Linked DNA regions of Homo sapiens. The protein of the gene in region 1 interacts with the protein of each later gene in a pairwise test. Each region holds a gene or a part of one and is shown on either strand. Other genes may lie near its edges.

Region 1 (12,598 bases):
CCCGGTCCTGCGCCTCACTCTCTCCCCTCCCCTGGCCACTGAAGGGGAGTCGGTGTGGTTTTCCCTGGGGGTGTCTGGCTGGGGGATGGGGCAGATAGAGCCAGCTGTGAGCAGAGTCTCTTCAGCATCTGCTCAGGGGCCAGCATGTAGGTGACGGCCTTGGGGAGGGGCAGGTGCCAATTCTGTTAGCAGGGCTGGGACTGAGGGACACGGCTTTCGGGTGGCCGGAGGTAGTAGGAGTTGCAGTGCTGGCTTGGGAACTGGCCTTGGTGATGGCACCCCAGCCACCACGGAGGGTCTGAGGGTTCAGTCTGTTGACGAGGACTGGGCAAGGGAGAGGCATTCTAGGTCCTGCCCCGCCTTTGGCCAAGCTGTCCTGAAGGTGGACAAATGGTCTGGCCTGAGTAGGACCCCTGAGCCCACAAGGCCTCAAGGTAAGGAGGAGAGAGCCCAGGGCCTGAAGACCCCCACCTGTCCTTGGATTCCTGCCTCTGCTCAGACCCCGTGGCCGTCTCAGGGATAAGACCTGCCCCCCCAGTCCCCCGCCTCTGTCAGGTTCCAGCCTCCTCATGGGCCACAGGTGGCTGGAGAAGCTGGGAGCCCAGCTGAGAAGGACGCCGGGGGCTTGGGAAGTTTGAGGAAAGGAGCCAGGCTAGGGGAACGTGGTCCATGCCTCCCAAGCCCCACGACCTGGGGAGCGGCATCCCCCAGGCCCCACGTGGCCCTGACCCCGTCAGACCTGGGGCCCTGTTCGCACCTTGGCCAGTCAGGTGAGGGAGAGCACAGAGGGCCCGGCAGACGTGGGGCTGGCATGGTGAGGACTCTGAGCCCCCCCCCCCCGCTGCCCCATGCTGGCACCGTGGGCTGGTGCCAGGGAGGCTGGGGAGGGGGCCAGGTGGGGTCGGGTGGAGCAGAGGAGGCACAGGGGCCTGGAGAACCGGTAGGCGGCCAGGGGCCACCACTGCGCAGAATTCCAGCTTTGCCCAGCCCTGGGCCAGGCCTGGGGGAAGAGGTGCTGGGCTGGGGGCACTCACACACTCTGGACGCCATTCCTCTTTCCATTCACAAACGTGCCTGGCGCTCCCGAGTGAGCCCGGTCCTGGGGCAGAGCAGCCCCCGCTGGGAACTGGATAAACGTTTGCAGAGGAGTTGGCGGGTGACTGACGGGAGGGCAATGCCGCTGGTCCCAGTCCCTGGAGGAGCACGTTGGACGGGATTACCCCAGGGCTCCCCGCCCCGCTGCTGACGAGGCTGACCCAGCCTCTGAGCTGTCCTTGATCCCTTGATCCACGTCAGGGATTGGGGAGGCCCCCGAGCACCTGCTGGAGGACTGGCAGTCCCCCGCCGAGCTTTAAACCCACCATCCTGGAGGTCAGAGGGCAGGGAAGCCTAAGGCCAGCCCACCCCCCAGGACCCGTGGCCATGGTGGGGCGAGGGCTGGCTTGGGGGAGGAGGGCCTGGGGCCTGGCGATGCCATCCCCTGCTGGGGAGGGCCCGCCTCTGGCCCTGAGCTTGGCGGAGAAGGCCGTGTGCAAGGTGGTGTATGGCGCCCCCCGCCCCCGCCCGCTGCTGCTGCCCGTGGGCCTGGAGCTGTGGCTCTACGTGCAGAAGATGCGAAACCTGCAGAGGAAGAGGTGCGGCGGGCAGCGAGTGGGGTGGTCACGTGGGTGTGGGTGCCAGGGCGTGGTTGGAGGCTGTCTTGGGATGAGTGGAGGGGACACCCACCTGGTGCAGCTGCAGGTGGCTGGCTGCATTGCCTGGATCCCAGATTGGAGGTGCAGAATGACAGAGGCCCATCCGTGCACCCATCCCCGACTTTTAGGCCCAGGCCCTTCCCAGGCCAGAAGCCTCCTTCGCCTTGAGCCTCGGATGCCACGTCTCCGGCTGGAAGGGAGGCGGGAGGTGGCTCCCATCATCAGATCTGCGGAGCAGCAGCGTCTGGGCTCCACAGACACCCAGGCCTCAGGCCTGAAGCCCCTCTCCTCCGATGTTGCCTGGAAGGAGGGGGCAGTAAACCGAGTGAGACCACTTGAAAAGTGGCTGGGTGGGGCAAGTGGGCCTTAATCAGGAAGCCCCGTGCGTGGCGCTGGCTGCAGGATGGGGCTTGGCTGGTTGTCATGGCGACGGTGGGCTCCTGTGACCCACGTGGCATCCGGATGGCCATTCCCAGAGGGATGGGTGAGGTGGCTGTGAGGTGCCTGGCAGGTAGTGGGTGGGAGGGCCTGGCCCTGAGGTGAGAGGATCACTTGAGCTCAGGAGTTTGAGACCAGCCTGGGCAACATAGTGAGACCCCCATCTCTACCAAAAAAAAAAAAAAAAAAAAAAAGCTGGGCATGATGGTGCAAACCTGAAGTCCCAGATACTTGGGAGGCTGAGGTAGGAGGATGGCTTGATCCTGGGAGATGGAGGCTGTAGTGAGCCGAGATCGCACCACTGCACTCCAGCCTGGGCAACAGAGCAAGACCGTGTCTCTATAAAAATAATAATGGTAACATAAGTTTTAAAAATGAAAAATGAAAGCAACAGAAAGCAAACAGGAATGATGGGGCCGGCCTGCAAGCAGCCGAGGCTGAACCCTTCCCCCACTTCTCTGAAATCAGGTCCCTCCTGGGCTCCAGCTGTGCCTGCCACCTCCTGGGGCCCCCCAAGCTGCGCCCTTGCTGAGTCTTTTGTGGCTCTCCGGGGGCACCCTGCAGATGGGGGCCCGCCTGCTCACACTGGCCACCCCATGGCATCTGCTGGGTGTGTCCTCCCCCCGCGACCCTCCACCCAGGGCAGCGCAGCAGCCTGAGGCCCATGTGACCTGTAAGAGTAGGATGGAGGAGGACACCAGGCCCCAGAGCAGGCAGCAGGGAGGTGCGGAGCCGGGCAGCCACGGAGTGACCCCACACTCCTCCCCGGCAGCTGAGTGCCAAGGGCAGCTCCCCAAGGCCCAGGGTGGGGGTCCCTCGGTGAGCAGGGCTAGGGTGGCAGCTGACGCACAGGGTGCTTGGGGGTTGTGCAGGGCCCAGGGTGAGGGGTTTCTTCTCTAAAGTCCCTGCCCGAAGGTGGGGGACCACGGCCAAGCAGGGCGTTGGTGTTCAGAAGAGGGCCTGGCCCTTGGGGTTAGGTGGCGCTCACACGGCGGAGTTCACCTTGGGATGGGGCGCCATCCACATCTTCCCACAGCAGCGCTGGGGGTGGCGGGCAGCACCTGGGAACAGCGGGTTCTCAGGCCTGTCCTGGCTGGCAGCGGCGAGCGCTTAGCTCTGTGGGTGGGGGACCAGGAGGAGAGGGGCTGGGACTGGCTAACCCGCAGCCACACCTCCGCAGCACTGGTCTCCCCTGGAGACTTGGAGGCTGACTGAATCCCCAGGCCCTGGCTGGGAGAGCTTGGGGGTGGGGGAGGAGCCGAGATCAGATCCCCACCCCACCCGACCCCCATGTGGCCTTCACAAGCCCCCACTACCGTCTGGGAGCCTCAGTTGTTCTTGGTGGGAATTAGGGGGGCCTCTCCCAGCAGCTGTGGTCGCTCAGGAGGATGGCTAGGGTGCCTGGCCCCTGCAGCCCGTACCTCTGGGATTTGGGTGAAGGCAGGGTATGGGGGCCACACCCCCTGCAACACCGGCCCCTGGGCCTGAGGGTCTTGCCGGGGTCACAAACTCACACCTTTGCCCCAGTGGCGTTCCTGACCTTGGCCGCACAAGGGGTGGACAGGAGGTGCTGGCAGAGGTGTGCTGGCTGGGGCGCCCTTGGGCCGCACACGTGCTTCCAGGCCTGTATCCCAAAGAGACACTTAGGTCTGTGAGCACAGATGTGGTGTGTGCCCTAGCCCACCCAGGGGCGTCGTCTGTAGTGAAGCCACGGAGGTGCTCCGGCCCCGGGGCGACTTTGCCAGGGCTGGGCCATGACGCCAAGTTCCTCTGCACAGGATGGAGGCGTCCTGCCTAGAGCTGGCGCTGGAGGGCGAGCGTCTGTGCAAGGCGGGCGACTTCAAGACAGGCGTGGCCTTCTTTGAGGCTGCTGTGCAGGTGGGCACCGAGGACCTGAAGACACTGAGTGCCATCTACAGCCAGCTGGGCAACGCCTACTTCTACCTGAAGGAGCACGGCCGGGCGCTGGAATACCACAAGCATGACCTCCTGCTGGCGCGGTGAGTGGGGACGGTCCTGCTGGCGGGTGAGTGGGGCGGCCCTGCTGGCGCGGTGAGTGGGGACGGCCCTGCTGGTGGGTGAGTGGGGCGGCCCTGCTGGCGCGGTGAGTGGGGACAGCCCTGCTGGTGGGTGAGTGGGGATGGCCCTGCTGGCGGGTGAGTGGGGACGGCCCTGCTGGAGCAGTGAGTGGGGCGGCCCTGCTGGCGGGTGAGTGGGGGTGGCCCTGCTGGCAGGTGGACGCTTCCTGTCCTCAGCAGTTACAGTTTGAGGAGGGGGACAGGGCAAGCAGGGTCTAAGGGAACGCAGTGGGGAAGCCCTCACCTGGAGGGCAGCCAGGGCTCTGGGACCCCGGCAGGGAGCTGGGTTTCAGCTGACAGGCGTGAGTGGGTCTGTGTGTCTGCGTGTGAGAGCCTGGGCTGTGACCCGCGTGCTGTGCGTGAGCACTCGTGACTGTGTGTGGCCCATCTGTGATCCTGTGTGGCTCAGAGCCCCACCCTTTCCCTGGCCCCAGGCCCCAGGCCCTGAGCCCCGGGCCCACTCCCAGCCACTGCTCAGTGAGGTGTGGTCCTGCCCTGGGGGCTGTCCCTGCTTTCCCATGGACCCCAAGCTCCCACTCACAGCCTCCTTCCTGCCTGGCGTCATCCACTCCCCAGTCTCCCCAACCTACTCCCCGCCGCCCCTTGGGGTCTTGGGGTCTCCAGTCGGGTCCAGCCCCCAGGCCGTGCCTCACGGGAGCACGCTTCCCTTGCCTCAGCCCTGCCCAGCGCCCTCCCCCTCAGCCCTGCAGCTGCCCTGACCTCTCAGCAGGGCAGAGCTTCTTGGAGCAACCCTCCCGCACTGGCCAGTGAGCTCACACCTGCTCCTCAGCACCCAGCTCAGTGTCTGGTGGGCATGCACCAAACGTCCTCTGAATGAGTTAGCAGGAAGTTAGTTCTCCACCATCAGGCCCCCCAAGTCCTCCCCGGATCCTAAGAGCTGCAGACCCCAGCCCCCTGCCCCAGGCCCAGGCGTGAGGTCCTGTGTGTAGCTCCTGGCACCTGTGTGCAGCCTGTGTGGTGATGGGCAGGAGCCTGTGCCCCAGACACAGCCCAGCAGAGCCCATACCCAGGGCTGCCCTCGGGCCTCACTTGCCCGGCCTGTGGGCCCCTGCCCAGTATCACCTCAGGGGTTGCAGGCTCCTGTCCACTCCATGCTGGTCCCTGAGGCCCAGCTACCCCACCCCATGCTCAGCCTCCCCCCGGGCCCAGAGGCCTGACCAGTCCTCAGCCTGACCCCTCACTCCTCCCTGCCATCCAGGACCATCGGTGACCGCATGGGGGAGGCCAAGGCCAGTGGAAACCTGGGAAACACACTCAAGGTCCTGGGGCGCTTCGACGAGGCTGCCGTCTGCTGCCAGCGGCATCTGAGCATCGCCCAAGAGCAGGGAGACAAGGTGGGGGCTTGGTCCGGGGCTGGGTGTCTCCCACCCCTGCACCGGCCTGCGTCCAGATCCGGGATAGGGGCGGGCGGGTGACTCACCACTCATCCAGCTCCTCATGGGAGGGATGACAGGGAGGTCGGTCCCCTAGATCCCGAGTGACTCAGGAGAGTGTGGGCCCCCAAAACAGGCCCCCCCAGCCCATGCTGACACTGCAGCCCAGGCCCCCACCTTCCACCCTCAGTTCTGCCGCCCCTCTCGGTGACCTCCCCCCGAATCCCTCCACACCCCCAGTCACTCACTCCCTGGGGGGCCCAGCGGGAGGCAGGGGGTGGCTCTGGGCTGCGGCAGTGGGAGGCCGATTTCAATGGCGGTGGTGACAGCAGGAAGAGTGGCTCCGTCTCCGCTTGTGCTGGACCCGAGACAGGCTTTGCTGACCTCCCTCCATGGCCCTGTGAGGCGAGAAAACCAAGGCTGGGGGGACGTGACTTACCCCCCGTCACACAGCTGGAGGTGACCAAGGGGGCTTGAGGCCGCAGCATCTGGTCCCAGCTGGAGCTTTCAGCCTCGGTCATCAGAGGACAGAGCTGAGGACCTGGCACCCTGGCCACGCCAATCCGCAGAGGAGGGAGGGATGGTGAGGGAGGGCGGAGGCTGGCTTCCCGGGTGTGCCGTCCTCAGGCTTCCGCCCCTGCCTTAGTGTCTGTGACTCAGTGGGAGCCCCCAAGGCCCTCGCTGTCGAGGGCTGGGACAGTGAGGACACCGGTGTGCCGGCTCTGCACATCGTGTGGGGGGCCGTGGAGGCATGCCCCCAACCCTCCGTACTGCCCACAGGTTGGGGAGGCGAGGGCCCTCTACAACATCGGGAACGTGTACCACGCCAAAGGCAAGCAACTGTCCTGGAACGCCGCAAACGCCACGCAGGACCCCGGGCACCTGCCGCCCGATGTCCGAGAGACCCTGTGCAAGGCCTCCGAGTTCTACGAGTGAGTGGGGCAGGGCCAGCCCAGGGACCGGGGCTGGCCTGTGCGTTTCTGAGCTCCACAGACACTTCCAGACCCCCGACCCCAGCCCCATACCTCCCGACAGCTCCCAGGGCAGTGACGGCCAGGTCCGCCCACCCCCGCTTTCTCAGCTGCTGGCTCCCTCCCCTGAGCTTGCCCCTGTCAGGGACTTGGGGGACATGACCAAGCCCCAGGTCTCAGAGCTCGAGGACCCTGGAGCCTACCCTAGCCACCCTCTTTCCAGGGCATGGCCCTGAGGCCGCATGGAGGCCGCTACTCAGCTCTTCTAGCCTGGGGTGGGTGAGGACATGGGCTGGGAGGGACACGGCTCAGAGGCACTCGGCCCCCAGGAGGAACCTGTCCCTGGTGAAGGAGCTGGGCGACCGTGCGGCGCAGGGCAGGGCCTACGGCAACCTGGGCAACACCCACTATTTGTTGGGGAACTTCACAGAGGCCACGACCTTCCACAAGGAGGTGAGCCGGGCAGGGTGACAGGGTGGAGGGGCCGGGCTGCTGCAGGGGCAGGGCTGAGCCACCCTCTTGGCGGTCCCTGAAAGGGCAGGGTGGTATGGCCAGGCAGCAGGCCCGCCCCACCGAGTCCTGGCCTCATCTGCACTTGGTCCTGCAGCTGCTAGCTGCTCACCCGGACACACAGATCTCTGGCCGGCCACCTGGGCAGGGAGGCAGCCCCTGTCCGCCCACGTCAGGCCCCGGGGCTGCGCCATGACCACCTGGCCTCCGGTGTGTCTCCGCAGCGCCTGGCCATTGCTAAGGAGTTTGGAGACAAGGCAGCCGAGAGGAGGGCCTACAGCAACCTGGGGAACGCCCACGTCTTCCTGGGGCGCTTTGACGTGGCCGCCGAGTACTACAAGTAGGTGGTCCCCACAATCTCCCAGGGAGACAGCAGGCCGGGGGGGCTGGATGCCAGGCCAAGGAAGTGCCCGCCCCAAGCTGGGAATCTGACTGCCTCCCCTCCCCTCCCCAGAAGGCAAGGTGGGGTTCTAGGCTGCCCCGGGAAGGGCAGACGGACAAAGCTCATGGGGAGGCAGGCGGTGGGGGAGCCGGCCTATGGGAGGTCTGGGCCATCTGCCTCCTGGCCTGAGCCACAGAGCAGCGCCTGCCGGGTGGAGCCCGGCTGTCAGCACGGGGTCCTGTGCCCAGCCCTAAACTTAACCCCATCTCAGCCTGAGCAGTGGGCACAGCAGTCTCAGGTCCTCCGGGGAGGAGTGGTGGCGGCTCAGGGTGGTCAGGCAACTTGCCAGAGCCTGGCAGGACCCCCCGTCCCCCTGGGGCCAACAGTCCCGCTCTGTGGCCATGTGAGGGTGGGGATGAAGCTGGACCCCAGAGAGGCCCCAGTGGGATTCCGGGGCAGGGGACCATCGGGCAGACTGCGTCCCCATTCTTACCTTCCACCCCTCACCCTGGAGCCCTCCTCCTGGGGGCTGACCCTGCCACTCTGCACAGGAAGACGCTGCAACTGTCTCGGCAGCTCAGGGACCAGGCAGTGGAGGCGCAGGCCTGCTACAGTCTGGGCAACACCTACACGCTGCTGCAGGACTACGAGCGCGCGGCCGAGTACCACCTGCGGCACCTGCTCATTGCCCAGGAGCTGGCCGACAGGTGCGTGGGCGCGGACGCGGCGGGCAGACCCGGCCCGGCCCACAGGCTGAATTACCGCGGCCCAGGCGAGGTGGCCTGGGTCCCATCCCCTGCTCTGCCACTGACCATGCTGTGACCCAGGAGTGGCAACGCCACTGTGGGGACTGAGCCAGACAGTGTGGACATTGGGCCGGCCACTGACCCCTGGCACAAGCGGGTGGGGTCCCCCTCCCATCCCTCAATTCGCCACCCTGTTGCCCCCACCACCCATGTATGTATGTAAATATCACTCTCTGGAGAGAGACAGGCTGGCAAACCACAGGCCCCTAAGTACTGTCTTGTGTGCAGGTCTGGGGTGGGTGGTGGCCGGAACAAGGGGCTCAGAGCCACAGGCCTGTGGCCTTTCACAGGCAGCAGAGAGGAGAGGTCTTTTGAAAGGCTGCCCTGCCTGGAGGCTTAAAAGTGGCCCAAGGTTTTCCTTTGTGGCGTGGTGAGGAGAATGTTCTGGAATAGACAGAGGTGCCGGTTGCACAGCATGAATGTACAAAATGCCAGTGGATCGTCCACGTGAAAATGATCAAATTCCTGTTAGACGCATTTCCCTCCAATATAAAAACAACCCCCTCACCCAGTGACTTGGAGGGTGCCCGTAAGGGTGGAGGGAGTGCAAGGGAGGAGGCTTGCCGGCCGCCAGGGGGCGAGCGAGGCCAAGGGCCCAGAAACTGCCCGCAAAGGCAGAGCCGGCCACAGGCCAGGTTGCTTGGACTCTGCGCTAATCCTTTTAATGGGAAGAAAAAAGGCAGAGCTGATTGGGGCTTATGCTTGAAGGTGGCAGAATTTGTGGGAGGTCCAGCTGGGGGCATTATCCTGTCATCCGGCCAATGCCCCTTGGGCCTGGGGGCCCCTGATGACCCTCGAAGCCAGGGTCATGCTGGGGCCGTGACCACCAGGGGAGGGGCTGGGGCTGGGGGCTGGCCTGGAGAGGGCGGGTATGAATCTGGTCTCCCTCTCTGGCAGAGTGGGCGAGGGCCGGGCGTGCTGGAGCCTGGGAAATGCCTACGTGTCCATGGGGCGCCCAGCGCAGGCCCTGACCTTCGCCAAGAAGCACCTGCAGATCTCCCAGGAGGTGAGCCAGGCCTGCCCCCAGAAGTCCCGGGCACTGCCCAGCCCACTCCAGACGGGCCGGGTCCCCTCTGCCCCGAGCGAGCGTGTGCGTGCCTGGGCCCCCCTCATCCTTTCAGGGCCATTGCAGCTGCCTGGTCCTTCCGAGGCCTGGTGATGACATGTCTACCATGCCCGGGGGTTTTTCCTGCAGCCCCCAGCTGGTGCCTTCCTGGGCAGCTGCGTCTCCTCCTCCTTGGAGAGTTTGCACAGGGTCTCTGTGGGCTCCGCCCATCAGCGCCCTCCTACTGTGGTCAGGGCGGAACATCACAGATGAACTGTGGGCCTCCCGGCTCCCGGCCTGTCCTTACATCACCCACTCCCACGCCACCTCCCTCTGCACACCCCGAGCCTGTTCATGCTAAAGACGGTGCCAGCCCCTACTGACCACCATAGACCCATGTAGGAGGTGGCCGGGTGGGGAGGCCTGCAGGTGCCCAGGTGAGGGTGGAGAGGGGCGGGCATGGGAAGGTCAGCAGAGCCCTCGTCTGAAGAGCTTCACTGGCAGCCAGCAGGCAGCCCCCGTGTCCCTCTGAGTGCAGGCTACAGCCTCCAGGGCCTTCCAGGGCTCCATGTGGCCCTCCCCCCAACCCCATGCCACCTCTCTTCTGCTTGACTTAAGCAAACAGTTAGTTCCTGAGTGATGTGGATGTTCCCGGGAGGGTCCCCCACAGAGCCTCGGCGCACAAGGCAGGGGCTGAGAGAGGTGCAGCCGGGCGGGGCCGGGCCCCTCGCGCACCGGAGGGCACAGGCCCAACCGCCTGGGACCCCAAGCATCTCTGGGGTGAACTAGGGGCTGTTGAGGACCTGTGGGGCCACCTCACCCAGGGACAGACCCCCAGACTCCACCTCCGGGTCCACAGTGAGTCCTGGTTCCCTCAGAGGCCCAGGGGTCAGTGACCAGTTCAGGTCACTCAGAAGGTCAGGGACGGGTGTACTGGGGGCCATTAAGGTCCCCTTGGAGCCCACAGCAGGGCCCCCAGCCACACCTGCCCGCTCCGCCACCCCACTCGCCGCAGATCGGGGACCGCCATGGGGAGCTCACGGCCCGCATGAACGTGGCGCAGCTGCAGCTGGTGCTCGGCCGCCTGACCAGCCCGGCAGCCTCAGAGAAGCCTGACCTGGCCGGCTATGAGGCCCAGGGTGAGTTCCAGGGTTGTGGGGGGGTCTTGCTCCCCACAGGCACGGACCGCATCAGGAGCTGCGGAGGGGTGGGATCGAGGCCAGGCCAGCATGGCGGAGGTGGCAGCCGCCAGAAAATGGCGCCTACAAGCCAGTTCTTCTTGGCCTCAGGGACAGCACAGGCCTGAGGTTCACCCTGAGCCCTTCCCACCCGCATCCTGAGTGGCGCTGCAGGGCTGCTGGATGAAGGACAGGAGGTGGTCGCCTGTTGCCCCACTGGCTGCTCCAGGGCCTCCACCCCCACCTCCCCCTGGAGCCCTCGGTGCAGGGAGGGCTTCTGTCCTCAGACCCAAGTAGGAGAGGGCTGCTGGGAGGCGAGAGGGCATCAGCCAGAGGGCTGGGCTGGGCTGGGCTGGGCTGGGCTGTGGGAGCCCTATGTGCCTGGGGCAGTAATCAGGCAAGGCCCAAGGCCATGCGAGGCCACCGTGGTGACCTCATTCATGGACCGCTGGTCGTCCCATGCCGGTCAGCAGTGCTGCAGACACAGGACAGAACGTCCCCTGCAAAGCGAAAAGACTAATAGGTGCCAGGGGGGTGGTGCCAGGTTGGGCCGACTTCCTGAGGTGGCTGGCAGGTGGGTGAGGGGCAGGCTTGGGGGGAGCAGCTGCCCCACCCATGTGTCCCCCACTCCCAAAGGTCTTGAGTTTGCCAGCCCCCGAGAAGGGATGCCTGCCTCCCAGAACGTACCTGGTGCCCCCCAGGCCTGCTAAGGACCAGGCTGGGAACACCAGGCTTGGATGTGGTGCTGGGCTGCCGGAGTTTCTTTTTCTTATCTTATTTTTAATAATTAAATGTTTTTATAGAGATAGGGCCTCACTATGTTGCCCAGGCCAGTGTCAAACTCCCAGCCTCAAGCGATCCTCCCATCTCGGCTTCCAGAAGTGCTGGGATTATAGGCGTGAGCCACCGTGCCCAGCCATCCCCTGGGTTTTTGTGCCACAGTGCTCATGGGTTTCTGACGATGACCTCTCCTGGGAAATTGGGGGTGCATGTCAGCCACCGCAGAGGCTGAAGACAGAGGAAGGAGCAGAGGCTCTGGGGCCCTCAGCGAGTCCGTGGGACAAGGTGCTGTGACCGATGGCAGTGGGTGGGTAGGGGATGGGCTGGAATGTGCCCCCCAGGATGTCCAGGCCTATTTCTACCCATGGCCGGGGTTTCCTAAGGGTGGGGAGCTCTGCCGAGAGCTCCTGCGGCACCCCTAGTACCCTCCTGTGTCCCTGGCTCGGCACTGCCACCATCTGGGACCCCAGCAGCAACTGGCAGCAGGGCTGGGAGCAGCTCTGGAAAGGCTCCGCGGAGGCTGCGGCTCTGGGTCCTCCCGACGTTTTCTTTCTTGGAGCCAAGGAAAAGGGGGGCCGGAGTGGGAGGACGCTGGAACAATGCAGCTTCTGTCCCTCTCTGGCTCCTCTGTGCCGCCCCGAGTGCGGGACCCCTTCCAGCCGGCCGGACGCCTCCTCCCCCAGGGCTGGGGAAGGGTCCTCCTCCCCGCCCAGGGCAGCCCGGCAGCCTGGCTGGGGCCGCCGCCCGGCTGCCGCTGTGGGAGGCAGGCTGCACACCTAGAGCCTGGGCGGCCCTGGGTGAGACCCCGGCTCAGCTGAGCCTGGCAGGGACAGGGCCTTGAGGCCGGGAGTCTGGACCCGGCGTTGCGGGTTGGGGGCGCCACGGAAGGACCCACGCAGCCTCCCCATTCGGCAGGTGCGGAGGGCGGGGTGGATCTGCGAGCTGCGGGAGGGGAGGGGGGTGCAGAGCCGCGCTAGAGCCTGGCCGTGCGGAGGGGGCGCCAGGGCTGGGGGCACAGGAGGGCGCTGCCCAGCGGGGTGTGGGCAGGGAGGAGGAAGTCGTCTGGAGGTGGGGCTTCAGCCCGGCGGGGACGCGGTGGGGCGTGGCCTTGCTGTTGTGGGCGTGGTCCATGGGGGCGGTGGGCGTGGCAGAGGCTGGTGGGTTTGGTGTCCCGTTGATAAACACAAGGAGACTTACGTGCGGCTGGAGGACAAAGAGCCTTGGCGCGGCTCAGTCAGCGTATTAATCTCACCGCCCTCTGCTGGCCCCTCCCCAGCCAGCAGAGAAGCCCCAGAAGTGTGTCTGGGGGTCACCACCCTGCC
Region 2 (16,569 bases), on another chromosome or scaffold:
GCTCACGCCTGTAATCCCAGCACTTTGGGAGGCTGAGGCGGGTGGATCACCTGAGGCCAGGAGTTCGAGACCAGCCTGGCCAACATGGCGAAACCCCATCTCTACTAAAAATACAAAAATTAGCTGGCCATGGTGGCGGGCACCTATAATCCCAGCTACTTGGGAGGCTGAGGCAGGAGAATCATTTGAACCCAGGAGGCGGAGGTTGCAGTGAGCCGAGATCGTGCCATTGCACTCCAGCCTGGGCGACAGGGCGAGATTCCATTTCAAAAAAAAAAGAACTATAGAAACGCTATTAACAGTCATGCACTTTATGGCATGTGTCATAGAAATGCATATTCAAACAGATCAAACAGCTGCCTTGTCAGAATAAAATGCACTTTAACATCCTCTAAAATTGGTACTTTTATTCCCATTTTATATTAATAGTTGAACAAAATGAGGGTTAGAATGGTTAAATAAATTGTCCTACTGTAAATATAAATATATATAAATTCATCCTTTAAAAAAGTAGTGGCTATAAAATAATGACAATAGCTAATAACTTGTTACCATTCATTCTTTTATATTCAATGCCTTTTATTACCGAAACTTTGATATTCTGAAGCAAAATAGCTCTTCTAAGTACAATACAGTTCATTTATTTAGGCTCTGCAGCATGTTGTTTATGCCATATCAAGCTTCCTTTTTTTGAAACAGTTTTGCTCTGTCACCCAGGCTGGAGTGCAGGGACACAATCATGGCTCACTGCAGCCTTAACCACCCAGTCTCAAGCAGTCTTCCCACTTCAGCCTCCCAAGTAGCTGGGACCCCAGGTGTGCACCACCATGGCCAGCTAACCTTTAAAAAAATATTTTTTGTAGTGATGGGGTCTCCCTGTGTTGCCTAGGTTGGTCTTGAACTCCTGGGCTCAAGGGATCCTCCTGCCTTGGCCTCCCAAAGGATTACAGGCATGGGCCATTGTGCCAACCCTCAAGCTTTCTTAAATACCAAATTATAGAACATGTCTTCACAGAAGATAAATCTTGAATAGTATGAAAACAGGAGACAGATGTATTACAGGCAATTCCCAAATTCAACAGTACTAAATATTTCATTTTGTCTAATTTCCCTGGCTAAACTCAGCATAGATTTTCTTTAAAAAAAAAAAAAACTTTACAAGACACATCACAATACACTTTTTTTTTTTTTTTTTGGAGATGTAGTTTCACTTTTGTCACCCAGGCTGAAGTGCAATGGCACGATCTTGACTCACTGCAACCTCTGCCTCCCGGGTCCAAGCGATTCTCTTGTCTCAGCCTCCCAAGTAGCTGGGATTACAGGCGCCCACTACCATGCCTGGCCAATTTTTGTATTTTTAGTAGAGACGGGATTTTGCCATGTTGGCCAGGCTGGTCTCAAAATCCTGACCTCAGGTGATCCACCCGCCTCGGCCTCCCAAAGTGCTGGGATTACAGGCATGAGCCACTGCACCCAGCCTCACAACGAACTTTTATTTTTGTTCTCAAAATAATACCATTTGTTTTCCAAAGTCTATATTTATTTTATATTACCCACTGTCATAATCAGACACTGTTCAATTTGTACTTTCCTTTCAGACAGAAGAGCTGGAAAAGCAGTTAGTCCTTGCCAACTCAGAGCTAACTGAAGCCCGGACAGAGCGTGATCAATTCAGTCAGGAATCTGGAAATTTAGATGATCAACTTCAAAAGCTGTTGGTAAGATTATGCTTTAAAATATGAATAAGACTAATTCTGGGAAGTTTTTCACTGAAATATATCACAAAACTCGTTTCCTTTATAAAATTACAAATTTACAAAATATTTGTGCATACATGCAATAGATTATTTTAGACACAATTCAAGTTTTGCATATAAAATATGATATTCTGTATACTTAACTTTTTTCTTAAGCAGAGCTATTACAGTATTAGGTGAAGGAGATCTTGACATAGCCATAGTCTTTCAAGTAGATACCATATTCCATTAAATTGAAGTAGTGTTACACGTTCATTTTAAGGCCAAATAACATTCAAAACACATAAAAATTGTGTATATAGAAATTTGGAATGGACGGTTAGGTGAAGTTGTTTTAAAAGAAAAGGACAGTATGATTGTGCTCATAATGAAGCCACTCTGTCCTCTGTTAGAGGAACTATAGGATGAGAAATTTAGGAAAGGAAATGTTTGGAATCCCCTTTTGCGGTATTAGTGGTATAACAGAATAAATTTCTCGGCTTACCAAACCCCATTCCAGGGAATGGTGCTCTTTGCTGGTAAAGCCATCCTTTGCAGGCTGACAAGGGTTTGATGAGCTGAGGTAAGGATAGAACTGAGAGCTGTGTAGAGAAGCTCTTAATCTTGGCATAATTCTTCAGTTCTTTACCTAACATTTGCATGTTTTTCAGTGTTCTCCTATCTAATTTGAAAATCTTGGAGACTGAATGTCTGAAAGATCCTCAAACCTGGCCTCCCTTTTCATTCTTACCATCACCACCTCTCGTTCAACCCCTCATTACTCATTGCCTGAAGCATGGCAGTCTCCTTACTGATGTTCCCAACTCCAGTTTTTCTCCTCTTCACTCCTTCCTGTAAAGGGCTGCCGCATACATCTCTCTAAAATGTAGCTCCGATGATGTCACTGTTCAACTCAAAATTACTTTCTCCATAAAGTCAGACACCCTCCCTTTCAATACTGTTCATGATCCATCACCCTGCTAACCTTTCCAATCCTTTCTCTCTACCCGGACCCAGTGCACCAAGCAAACACACAGGCCCCTTTCCTGTCCCTTCTTCCTAATCTCTACATCTTCAGGTCTAACTCAAATACTATCCTGAAGCATTTTGATCCCTTTAGTGAGATTCTGTCTGCTATTCCTTATCTTTGTTCCTTTAATGAAAAACCACTTCCAGTTACTTATGTCTATGTCTTAACTTTCTCTTGGATCCTAAGTCATTTGAGTGTAGATATATCTTTGTTTTTACTAGTCTGACTAGAGTTTTTGCTCCTATTCAACACTATGTATTTTTTAAGTGACTGAAAAGGGAGGTAATTCTATTCACAGCCCAGATGCTACTCCAATTCCAGTACCAGCCACTATTCTGCCATCTCTCCATTACTTATCATTTTTCCTTTACTTATCATTTTTCCTTCATGCTTTTGAGCATTTCTTTATTATAGGAGCATACCTGATGTGAGACATAATGTCTTTCTTAGAAAATGCAAGACTTAAAAACAGGATGACTTTTAAAATCTACTGTATTTTCCTTTTCATTGTATATTATTTGAGGTCTAGTCCCTCGAGATAGACTAGTAATGCTAGAAATTTTAAGCAAAATGTTAACTTATTTTTCTTGGAAATAATTGCTCTTAAGCCATTAAAAAGGAATCAGATTCCAAAATCAAAGGTGTCTGAAATCACATAAAAACTCCAAATATGATATAAAGACAATATGTTTTATCTTAATTATTTAATAGCAGGGAGGAAAAAAGCATTCCTCTCTTTTTTTAGGCTGATCTACACAAAAGGGAGAAGGAGCTGAGTCTGGAGAAGGAGCAGAATAAGCGTCTGTGGGACCGAGACACAGGCAACAGCATCACCATTGACCACCTGCGGCGGGAACTGGACAACCGGAACATGGAGGTGCAGCGCCTGGAAGCCCTGCTCAAGGCCTTGAAGAGCGAGTGTCAGGGCCAGATGGAGCGGCAGGTCAGTGCCTGCACAGGCTGTGCCATCGCCAAACAATCTCCTCTGGGGAAATAAATATTTTATGTCTAAATAGAGCTTTTTATTTTTAACATATATGGACCTAAAATGGCTCCTAAAATAAAGCTATGGATTCTGTGAGCAATTTATGAAAACCTGATACTTATTTTTCATTTTATTTCATTTTTTGTTTATTTATTTATTTATTTATTTTTAGATGGCGTCTTCCTCTGTCACCCAGGCTGGAGTGCAGTGGCGCGATCTCGGCTCACTGCAACCTCCACCTCCCGGATTCAAGCAATTCTCCTACCTCAGCCTCCCAAGTAGCTGGGATTACAGGCGTGTGCCACCATGCCCAGCTAATTTTTTGTAGTTTTAGTAGAGATGGGGTTTCACCATGTTAGCCAGGATGGTCTCGATCTCATGACCTCATGATCTGCCCACCTCAGCCTCCCAAGGTGCTGAGATTACAGGCGTGAGCCACTGCGCCCGGCCTATATATAGACACTAATTAAACTAAATGTGTCAAGCTTTATCTCACTTGTACATTGTTGAAGAACTAAACTCTTATCCCATTGCCTTTTCACGTTTACCTAAAAATTGGTAACCTAATAATTGCTTATTTCTGCTGCAGAGAAGCATCAAATTATTGGGCAGCCTGAGAAGCAACAGGGTTGAAGGTTTCTAACAGATTTTTTTGCTTTATTTTTCTCCCAAAAGAGACTTGCCTCTCTTTCCCCAAGTCTCATCACTGATTGAGACTGATGAGTGCATTCCATTCCGGTGCACCCTCCAGTAGCAAAACGTGGACTGCCTTCTTAATAGCAGTGTACTTTCTGTGCTAGGAAGACATGGTTCTAATGCCAGTTACTGCCACAGGGACATAAAAAGCATCCCACAAAAGTGTAAGCTTCTCAGAATGTGAAAGCAAACCAAGGGACTGGTCTTGGCTTAGACCCAGGCAAAGCCATTAACCTACTCTCTGGCTTAACCTGGGCAAGAAGAAAGATGAAAGGACCAACTGGAAGTTAGAATTTTCAGCTTTTCCAAACAAGGATCAGAGAATATGAATGTGTGTGTGGATAAAAGCCATTATTCATTTTTTTCCTCAGAGGTAGAATTAAAGGTAAAGTTGGAGGGAAATTAAAAATAAGGGGTAGTTATTGTAAATTCCGCCACCCTTCCCCCCATTGCCAGGGTTATCTTAATCTAAATCAGTACAGAAAACATCCACAGAGGAAACTTCCCAAGACTGCACTCTAGAACACCGTTGTGGAGGAGCGTTATTATTTAATTAAGCCCTCTCCACCTTGGTCTAATTAGCATATGTCAGTCTTACATATGTTATAAGAGCTAGAGTTCTGACAGCAAAATGATTGAGTTAATTTAACTAGACATGGCTGGGTACAGTGGCTCATCCCTGAAATCCCAGCACTTTGGGAGGCCGAAGCAGGAGATCATTTGAGGCTGGGAATTTGAGAAGACCAACCTAGGGAACACAGTGAGACCCCCATCTCTTAAAAAAAAAAAAAAAGATCTTACTAAACATTGCCTAATTCATGATTTCATGCTTTTAAGTTAACTTGTATCTCTTGAGGTTGCCTATACCTATCCTCCCAAATCTATGAAATTCTCTTTTCTTTAACAATCAGATGGCAGCAATTCAAGGAAAGAATGAAAGTCTAGAAAAAGTATCCTCCTTGACTGCTCAGCTTGAATCCACCAAAGAGATGCTGCGCAAAGTAGTAGAAGAGTTGACAGCCAAGAAAATGACTCTGGAGAGCTCAGAGAGGACAATATCGGACCTGACAACTTCTCTCCAGGAAAAAGAGAGAGCCATCGAGGCTACCAATGCAGAGATCACAAAGCTCCGCTCCCGGGTGGACTTGAAATTGCAGGAGCTGCAACACTTGAAAAATGAAGGGGATCATCTCAGAAATGTGCAGACAGAATGTGAGGCCCTCAAACTGCAGATGACAGAGAAGGACAAGGTGATCGAGATTCTGCGACAGCAGATTGAGAACATGACACAGCTGGTGGGCCAGCATGGACGAACTGCTGGAGCTATGCAAGTAGAAAAAGCTCAACTGGAGAAAGAAATTAATGATAGGCGGATGGAACTAAAGGAACTTAAGGTCTGTAGAGTTTTTTTGTGATTTAACTTCTGAAATATCATTTATTAGCAGGTATGACCTGTACTGAAAAGTGGTTCTTGGTATCTGTGGACACTCTGAAACTGTTGGAAGGTGTTTGTTTCTATGTGTATATGTGTGTTTTTGTGAGAAAGGATAAATACTTTTATCAGATTATAGAAGGAATGGATGACTCGAAAATGGCTCAAAATCACGGGTACAAAAGAAAAAAGATCAGAAAATCTATGAAGTCTTTCCTGATACCACAGGAAAGTATTTTCTCCCTCTTCAGACAGACCTAAATTTGAACCCCGTCTCTCACTACTTAGTTACAGTGAAACATTGGACTGTTTGCTGAATCTTGGCTTCGATATCTGATAAACAAAACCAAACCAAAAAGTAAACAAAACAAAAAACTCCCAACAACCTGTTGGGTTACTGTGAGGCTTAAATCAGAAAGTATATATCAAGGAATGAGCCTATTAATAGTTTCTGGCTATTTAATAATTTAAAATTTAAATAACTTAATAATTTAAAATTTAATAAATATTAGTTTCTTTCCCCTGTTTTGGTCTCCTTCTGAACTTTCTCATACTTTATTTGTACCTGTTAAAACCTGGTTCACATTCTATATTGCCGTGTGTGTGTGTGTGTGTGTTTGTGTGTGTGTTTATGTAGCAGTGTCTCCTTTTCCCTACAAGATTGTAGACTTCTTCAACCAGGGTACACATCTTATTAGCCTTTGTACCTCCTGCCCCATATTTTTGTGCCTTGCACCCAGAAGGTGCTCGATAAATACTTATCAAAATTTAACACAATTTAATGGGTTTTTTAAAAAAATTGATTTCATAGGATTAATGTCACCTTTATCTCTGACTTGGTGAGTAGTAGGAGACAAATCACATATACTGTAGATGCTTCAGTTTCCTCCTTCTAAAAATAGGGCCAGCAATAGATAATTATCCATCTTATGGAAATAAACAAGTTCATTGCATTAAAAATAGAATTTTCTATTGCTTAAGTTTTTACCTGATTATATACATTTTTAAATGGCCAAACTCACCATGAAAAGGGACATAGAAAGGATTCTCAATGGCCAGCCCTACAATGAAACCCTTAGAACAGGTGTGATGCAGGGCAGAGCATATCAGAGGAGAAAGGATGGTTGTTCTACCTTGCTTAGGAAGATCACTAGTGGATTGCTAGTGTGTTAAGGTTCTAAACAGGAGAATCCCACTCTTATACTCTAAAACTTAAATCAATTTAATCCTCACAAAACCTTATGAGGGAGGCACTATTATTATCCCATTTTACAGCTGAGGAAACTGAGACACAGAGAGTTTAACTTTCTGGAGAGCAGCACTACCTTGTGGTTTGAACCTAGGCAGCCTAAGTAGATGTTACTGTGCAGTGGTTCTCAGTGAGAACCGGAATCGCCTGGAGGGCTTTTTAAAGCATGGACTGCTGGCCTGCTCCCAGAGTTTCTGACTCAGTAGGTCTAGGATGGGGTGTGAGATTTGGTGTTTCTGAACAAGTTGCCAGATGACGTGGATACTGCTGGTCCTGAGAGCATCCATCAGGATCTGTGTTAGTGCCTCAAAGGAATGTGGAGCTCCTGACTAGAGGGCCAGTGAAAGCTTCAGAGAGAGCTGGGAACCTGAAATGGGCAAAAACTAGGCAAAGAGAAGGAAGGATGGCATTCCAAGCCCGGGAAGAAGCCTAGTCTGTAATTTAGCCTAGAGATGGTGTGGGAGACATTAAAGGTTTAGGGGTAGGAAGGAGGGGGTAACATGAAGAAGACAGTGTTGGAAGTGGATTAATCTGGCATCAGTATGCAGAAGTGGCTTGGAGAGAGTAAAACTAATTTTCAGTTCCTAAATATGGAGCTGGAGCAGCTTCAGGGAATAATTTCCTAGGTAATTAGAGTTTCACACAGACACAAAGAACATAAGTTTAAAACTCAAGTCCTAATGCCACATCCACTTCCCTCTGTGATCTGATAAGAAAAAAAGGTGGGGGAATCATAGCTGTAGAAGGTATGGTTTCTCTCCTGGTTTCTGTCCCCTCTTCAGAGTGGGTACTGCACACATTGACAGCAGAGAAGCAGAGTGACTTTTATTTCAATAACTGTGGGTCCCCAGAGCTAGACCTTTCTTAAAAACAAATAAATAATAAGACTAAGAAAGGACTGAATTCTATCAGCTGGCCTCAAGAGGTGGAACAGGAGCAGCACTCGTCCTATGTGTGTTGTGATGCCTCAGGTTGTCCCAGGGAAAGCCCTCCCCGTCCCTTACTGCATGAGGTCAGCTGGATTTAGTGTGACAGTTGCCAGGAGTGGCTAGGCAGAGATCAGATAGCCCAGATTAGGGCCTTTACTGCCCAAACCCATCACAGGCGGGCAGTGAGACAAGCCTGGGGCTCCCCACCAATCCTTTTTGAACAGCCAAAAGCTTGTCATGTGGCTATATTTCAGATGTATCATTGGTCTCCACAGTTAAACTGCTGCTATAGCAGTCAAATTGCATCTGCCAGGATACTAAGGCCAGTAGGGCGATAATTTGGGGAAACAATCTGATGACCAAAGAAAGTCAATATTTTTTTCAAATGTCACTTATTCGGAAGGATCTAGGTCAGTTCTGTCCACCAGAAATACAGTGTAAGTGACATATATAATTTTAAGTTTTCTAGTAGACACATAAAAGAAATGTGAAATTAATTTTAATAACATTTTATTTAACTCATATTCAAAATATAGTGTTTTTAATATTATAATCAATACAACAGATCACCAAGATATTTTATATTCTATTTTTATACAAAGTCTTTGAAATCTGGTGTATATTTCACACTTACAGCACATAACTTAGTTTGGCCACATTCCAGGTGCTCCAGAGTCATGTGCAGGTATTGTGTTAGACGACACAGACCTACACCCTGGGAAGAGAGGGGTCCTCCTAGGAAGCCTTACCAACACAGATAGAGACCAGTTAGGAGGCACTGTGGCAATCCATATGCAAAGTGATGGCAGTCCAGACCTGCAGGTTGGGCAGGATTTGATCAACAATTGGGTATGAGGGGCGAGGGACAGGGAAAGACATGGTGACTTTGTGAGTTCAAACTTAGACTGGCAACATGGTAGTGCCTCTAACAGAGAAGAGTCAGAAAGGATTGTAGGGGAAGGCCCTCTGTGAAGAAGGAATAGGAATGTTTGAGTCAGAGTTTGCAGAAGCATGCCATGCTGGGGGTTTCTGACAGTTAGTTGGAAACGCCGAATTAGAGTTGCCATATTCACATTCCCTACCCTAGTCAAAGGACCAGATACTTTCACCACCACAAACCACCCCAGTCTAAGCTCCCACCTCTCTTGTTTGCTCTTCCAGTTGCCTTCTCACTGGTCTCCATGCTTCTCCCCCTACCCCCACGCCAACCACTGTTTTCCTTCATACCAGAGCCAGAGTTGTATTTTTAAATTGTTACACTACATCACTCTCATACTCAAAACTGTCCAATGACTTCCTGACTCACTCACAATGCATGCTCAAGTTCTTACATTGCCTCTGAGCAACCTGATCATTCCCTTGGCCCCTCTCTGACTTCATCTCCTGCTTACCCCAAGCTCACTTCACTCCAGCCCTACTGATGTCCCTGCTCTTCCCCAGACACGTTACCTGTACACAGAGCTCTTCCCAGACTGTCCACGTGTCTTGTCCTTATGCTCAGGAGCACAAGGAGCATCTGCTTAGATGTTACATCATCAGAGAGGCCTTTCCTTGCCAACTGTGGCAGGGTCCCCAAGACCGACCCCAGGTTTGATGATTCCCTAGGAGGACTCGCCAGACTCAGCATATAATCATACACAAGGCTAGGATTTATTACAGTGAAAGGATACAAAGCAAAATCAGCAAAAGGAAAAGGCACACGGGGCAAAATCCAGAGAAAGCCAGGCATGAGCTTCCAAGAGCCTTCTCCGAGTAGAGTTATGCAGGACATGCTTACTTCCTACTCCACCCCCTGCCCCAGCAAGACACCGTGACAACATCTGTCAAGTGCTGCTAACCAGAGAAGCTCATTAAAGCCTCAGTGCCCGGGTTTTTATATTGGAGTTTGGTCCCATAGGCCCCTCTACCTGGCAGGTATCCAGATTCCACGTTCCCAGAAGGAAAGCAGGGGTTCAGCATGAACACATTGTTTGCACAAACAGTTTAGGCACACTGAGCCACTCTTATTAGGGTGGTGGGAACCCTCCCAAAATCCAAGTTCCCAGACGACAGTCAAGGGCCAACCTTGTAAGCGGCCTTTTTGAGGAGAGCACCCAAACCTGCTATGTGAACTCTTTCTGCACACCAGCTTACCTCAAGTAGCAACCCCTCCCTTGCATTCATTCTGTACCCCTCACCTGCTTTTATTATTATTCTTGCCACTTCTCTTACCTGACATATTAAATATTTGTTTGTTTTCTTCTCTTCTTACTAGAGGAGGACATGAAGACAAAGACATTGTTTTGTTTATTGCTATCCAGGGCCAGGACTAGGGTGAGGTAACTGAGGTGCCCAGGTTAGAGGCCCTCACCTAGCTGCTTCACTTGCATTACCCTAGTCATAGCCCTGCTTCTATATCCCTTGCTTGTAAAATAGTTCCTGCCACAAAGAAGGTTCTTAATATGTATTTTTTGAGTGAATGGAGATAGAATAGGAATAATGAAGGGTTGTTGCAAGCAATACTAGGAATTGACATCTAAGGTTAAAAGAAAGTGAAATATTTTCCCACTTTCTATTGATGCTTTATAATAAAATACAAATTTAGTGTCCTGGGAAGTAATGAAAAGATAATAAATATAGATGGAATACAGATAGGAGGCAGAAAAGGATATTAAGTAGGAGACTGTTGTCAGATTTTAGGACTGTGTTAGCAGCTATCAATTATAACTATACATGTACATATTTTTTACTTCTCTATCCTTTGTATTTATCCATATATTTAGATATTAAAAGATAAAAAAGATGCAAAGATCCGGGAGCTTGAGGCCAGAGTGAGTGACTTGGAGCTGGAAAAGGTGAAGCTGGTGAATGCAGGCTCTGAGCGGCTCCGTGCAGTGAAGGACATCAAACAAGAGAGAGATCAATTATTAAATGAGGTGAAAACAAGTAGGAGTGAATTAAACAATCTTTCAGGTATGTTGCTTCAGCACAAATCCTACTAAAAAATAAGAGTCTTAGCAGTGAAGCCAATGTAGACCCTAGCACAATTGCAAAAGAAGGGTGTCTCACTCACATGACAAACATGAATAGTTATGCTGCCCCCATGGAGTTATTCATAGCATGAAATCTCATAGTTTTCATGAAGAGTTCCCACATCTTACACTTACTGACCTTAACTTTAGTCAGCCCTCAGTGTACTGGAAATTCTGTACTGAATTTCTAAGAGAAGTGTGAGGTGTCCAGAGTCCAGGCTTCCAAAAGGAAAACAGGTGTTCACATAAATCACATTGTCTGCACAGTTTTGTGTTTATGAAAGTGGAAAACCTTGAGTCCTTGGAGTCAAATAGCTTGATTAGAAGTTTACTAATGAAGTGACATGTGAAAATAGACATGTGAATTTATTGACAGGAAAAATCCATGGCCTTATATTAAACAGTGAAACACTCCAGTTTATGGTTGGTATGTGTATTAGTCCCTTCTCGCATTGCTGTAAAGAACTACCTCAGACTGGATAATTTATTTTATTTATTTATTTTTGAGACAGAGTCTCACTCTGTCCACCAGGTTGGAGTGCAGTGGCGTGATCTCAGCTCACTGCAAGCTCCGCCTCCCGGGTTCATGCCATTCTCCTGCCTCAGCCTCCCAAGTAGCTGGGACTACAGGCGCCCACCACCACGCCTGGCTAATTTTTTGTATTTTTAGTAGAGATAGGGTTTCACTGTGTTAGCCAGGATGGTCTCGATCTCCTGACCTCGTGATCCACCTGCCTCAGCCTCCCAAAGTGCTGGGATTACAGGCATGAGCCACCCCACCCAGCCCAGACTGGGTAATTGATAAAGAAAAGAGGTTTAATTGACTCACAGTTCTGCAGGCTGTACAGAAAGCATGGCTTGGAGGCCTCAGGAAACTTAAAATCGTGGAAGATGAAGGAGAAGCAAGCACATATTCACATGGCAACAGGAGAGAGAGAGACAGAGAGAGAGCACACAAAGGGGGAGGTGCTACACACTTTGAAACAACCAGATCGCATGAGAACTCACTCACTGTCATGAGAACAGCAAAGGGGAAATCCGCCCCCATGATCCAGTCACCTTCCACAAGGCCCCTCCTCCAACACTGGGAATTACAACAGGACATGAGATTTGAGTTGGGACACTGAGCCAAACCATATCATTCTGCCCCTGGGCCGTCCCAAATCTTATGTCCTTCTTACATTTCAAAACACAATCATGCCTTCCCAATGGTCCCCCAAAGTCTTAACTCATTCCAGCATTAACTCAAAAGTCCAAGTCCAAAGTCTCATCTGAGACAAGGCAAATCACTTCTACCTATGAGCCTATAAAATAAAAAACAAGTTAATTACTTCCAAGATACATGGAGGGTACAGGCACTGGGTAGATGTTCCTGTTCCAAAAGAGATAAATTGGCCAAAGCAAAGAGGCTACAGGGCCCATGCAAGTCTGAAACCCAGCAGGGCAGTCATTAAATTTCTAAGCTTTGAAATAATCTCCTTTGACTCCATGTCTCACATTCAGGGCATGCTGATGTAAGGGGTGGGCTTCCAAAACCTTGGGCAGCTCTGCCTCTGTGACTCTGCAGGGTACAGCCCCCATGGCTGCTTTCATGGGCTGGCACTGAGTGCCTATGACTTTTCCAGGCACATAGTGCAAGCTGTCAGTGGATCTACCATTCTGGGGTCTGGAGGACAGTGGCCCTCTTCTCACAGCTCCACTGGGCAGTGCTCCAGTGCAGACTCTGTGTGGGGGCCCCAACCCCACATTTCCCCTCTGCACTACCCTAGTAGAGGTTCTCCATGAGGGCTCTGCTCCTGCAGCAGACTTCTGCCTGGACATCCAGGCATTTCCATATATCCTCTGAAATCTAAGTGGAGGCTCCCAAGCCTCAACTCTTGCCCTCTGTGCACCCACAGCCCCAACATCACATGGAAGCTGCCAAGGCTTGGGGCTTGCACTCTGAAGCAACAGCCTGAGCTGTACCTTGGCCCCTGTTAACCAGAGTTGGAACTGGAGCAGCTGAAATGCAGGGCACCATGTCCCAAGGCTGCACAGTGCAGCAGGGCTCTGGATCTGGTTCACTAAACCATTTTTCCCTTCTAGGCCTCCAGGCCAGTGAGGGGAGTGGCTTCTGAGAAAGTCTCTGAAATGACCTGGAGACATTTTCCCCATTGTCTTAGCTATGAACATTTGGCTCCTCTTTACTTAGCAAATTTCTGCAGCCTTGAATTTCTCCCTAGAAAATGGATTTTTCTTTTCAACTGCATGGTTGGGATGCAAATTTTCCAAACTTTTATGCTCTACTTCCCTTTTAAATATAAATTCTAGCTTCAGGTTATTTCTTTTTTAATGCAAATGAGCACAGGCTTTTAGGAGCAGCCAGGCCACATCTTGAACACTTTGCTGCTTAGAAATTTCTTCTGCCAGATACCCTAAATCATCTCTCTCAAGTTCAAAGTTCCACAGATTCCTAGAGCAGGGGCACAATGCTGCCAGTCTCTTTGCTAAAGCATAGCAAGAATGATCTTTACTTCATTTCCCAGTAAGTTCCTCATCTCCATCTGAGACTTCTTCAGCCTGGACTTCATTGTTCATATCACTGTCAGCATTCTGGTCACAACAATTTAACAAGTTTCTAGGAAGTTCCAAACTTTCCCACATCTTCCTGTCTTCTTCTGATCTCTCCAAACTGTTACAACCTGTATCTGTTACCCACTTGCAAAGCTGCTTTCATATTTTCAGGTATCTGTAGAGCAGTATCCTACCTCTCTGGTACCATTTTTCTGTATTAGTTCATTTTTGCATTGCTATAAAGAACTACCTGAGAATGAGTAATTTGTGAAGAAAAGAGGTTTAATTGACTCACAGTTCTGCAGGCTGCACAGGAAGCATGGCTGGGAGGTCTCAGAAAACATAATCATGGTGGAAGGTGAAGGGGAAACAAGCACATCTTCACATGGTAGCAGTAGAGAGAGAGAGAGAGAGAGAAGAGGGAGGTGCTACACACTTTCAAACAACCAGATCTCATGAGAACTCACACACTGTCACAAGAACAGCAAGGGGGAAATCCTTCCCCATGATCCAATCACCTCCCACGAAGCCCCTCCTCCAACACTAAGAATTACAACAGGACATGCGATTTGGGTCAGAACACAGAGCCAAAGCATATTAGTATGGTATGAAGTATCATGTACTTCATAAAGTCAGAAGTTACTGAGCATTTACTATGCAAGACACTGTGGTAGAACCTGGAAACCCCACAATGAAGCTCACAGTCTAGTAGGGAGATAAACCTAGATAGAAATGGGTGAATAACCAGTGTGTGAGGCACAGTGAAAGTGTATTGAGTACAAAGATAGCACAGAGGATACAGAATTTACCTCCTGTAGGAAGTGACATCTGTACTGGGTTTGAAAGAGGAAAAGGAATTCAGCAGGTGAAAAAGGGGTGCAAGGGACATTCCAGGCAGAGAGAACATTATGGGCAAATGCATGAAGCCATGAAATATCAAAATGTGACCTCAGAAGTATTAGCTGGAGCAAAAGTGAAACGAATGAGGGCTAAGAAATAAGGCAGAATAGATAGGTAGAGCCGGGTAATGTGGAGCCCACAAAAGATATTAAGTAGGAGATTTTTTGTCAGATTTTAGATGGACTGTGTCAGTAAGTAAATTAGAGAAAAGAAAAGCAGACCAAGCAGTTAAGGAGGATTTTTGCAGTCGTCCCAGATAAATAGAATGAGGACTTGAATTAAGGCAGTGGCAGTGAGAATGGAAGGAAAGAATTAAGGATATTTTTGGAGGTTAAATCAACAGCACTTAGTGGTTGGAGGGATTAAGTGTAGGTTTCAGGATTTTAGTTTGTGGTATTGGAAAAGCAATGTAAGCAACTGGGAGAGGGAACCAGAAGGAAAGGCAGGCTTGAGGGCTGGAGGATGAGATGTAGGCACTGTGAGGCAGTTGGTTTCAGGTGGCACGAGGACATCTACATGGAGATGTCTGGACAAATGGAGCTGGAGCTTTGATCCTTTTCTATATAAATCTAATCATATAAATAGATACATATAAATAAATATGTGTGTGTGTGTGTGTGTGCACACATGTGTGTATTGTAGTATATCAAATGATGAGTTTGTGCCAAGTATTTTCACAGATACTGGAGATAAGTCAGATAAGACAGATGGCAGCCTCAGGTTACTTATAGTGTCATGGAGATTCATCTACCAGCAGATGGTGGTTAAATCTACTCTAGTGAACACGGTCATCCAAGAAGAAGGTTTAAGATGAGATAACTGCAAACTAATTATAATGTTTGGGAAAAAACAATGAGTAATAAGTGGGTAGAGGAGGAATAGGATCCACCCAAGCAGATTAAAAAGAAAGGGTCATATCCCTGGAATTGTGTATGTACATCTCATTTCTGTAACAAAGGAAGATGTAATTAAATGACTTCTCTTCCAGTTCTAAAATTCTGTGATCATTAATTACAAATAAAATATACTTAATTAACAATGGGATAGAAAAAAGTAACCATCTATTATTGATTATCACATTGTATAGAGGAGTATGAAGTCTTAAAAAGGAATTTCCGAAACAAAAGTGAAGAAATGGAAATGACTACAAATAAGTTGAAAATGCAATTAAAATCTGCACAGTCTGAACTAGAACAGACAAGAAATACATTAAAGTCAATGGAAGGATCTGATGGTCATGGTATGCTCTGTTAGATTTAAAATTTTTTCTTCTGTTTTTAATTTAATGGACTAAATTTGTTAAAACAGAAACTCAAATACGTTACCTACCACCTCTTCACAGTGCTAAATGATGTAAGAAATATACAATAGTAGGTATTAATGATGGAGGTTATGTAGCAGTAGTTAATTGTTTTTAGGAAATTGCCATGGAGTTAATTTAATCCCTAAACTATCTGAATCTTTCCTTTCTAGTGGCTATTTCAGTAATTTCTAACAGATCTCAGTATCTATTAACGTCAAGTAATTATTTTTAAGGATATAAATACAAGTTACCTGTAATTTCCATTCAATCCTTTATTTTTCAACATGTACACTATATAAACTGTAGGTCCCTGGCTAGTTGGCAGTTCTTGATTGCTTCACCGTGATAAAAATGGGAAGGAATCCTGGAAATTGAATTGTTAGGTGAGGGGACCTTCTCACCACCCAGATTTATTCCCCTTTTACCTTGCTGCCCATACTAATGCAGAGAGATAAAGAGGTTATCTTCCAGTTCATGTTATTCATATAATTGTTGACATGACCATATTAGCTGACCATAAAAATTAATATTTATCTAATTAAAGTATATACTTTTCCATTTCTCAATATTTTTTAATGTCAGAAGATTTATTTTTGTGCTCGCTTTGGCCGCACTTATACTAAAATTAGAACGATATAAAGAAGATTACCATAGTCTCTGTGCAAGGACGACCACAAATTCTTGATGTGTTTCATATTTTGTGTGGTTTGGCCCTTTGCTGGTTAACACAGATAAACTTGTTGGG

The links.
Region 2: the proteins of GPSM1 (region 1) and CCDC158 interact in a two-hybrid assay, tested with the Homo sapiens proteins (2 studies listed by BioGRID and IntAct).

What each region holds. Positions count from the first base shown.
Region 1 is NC_000009.12:136,330,537-136,343,134, forward strand, and holds part of GPSM1 (G-protein-signaling modulator 1), read left to right. Parts: intron 1-3,910; coding exon 3,911-4,132; intron 4,133-5,429; coding exon 5,430-5,565; intron 5,566-6,384; coding exon 6,385-6,536; intron 6,537-6,904; coding exon 6,905-7,028; intron 7,029-7,309; coding exon 7,310-7,425; intron 7,426-8,018; coding exon 8,019-8,174; intron 8,175-9,170; coding exon 9,171-9,279; intron 9,280-10,333; coding exon 10,334-10,457; coding exon of another isoform or gene 10,458-10,624; exon of another isoform or gene 10,625-11,302; intron 11,303-12,598. UniProt on the Homo sapiens protein: Guanine nucleotide dissociation inhibitor (GDI) which functions as a receptor-independent activator of heterotrimeric G-protein signaling.
Region 2 is NC_000004.12:76,356,566-76,373,134, reverse strand, and holds part of CCDC158 (coiled-coil domain-containing protein 158), read left to right. Parts: intron 1-1,598; coding exon 1,599-1,718; intron 1,719-3,511; coding exon 3,512-3,709; intron 3,710-5,358; coding exon 5,359-5,841; intron 5,842-10,819; coding exon 10,820-11,009; intron 11,010-15,608; coding exon 15,609-15,761; intron 15,762-16,569.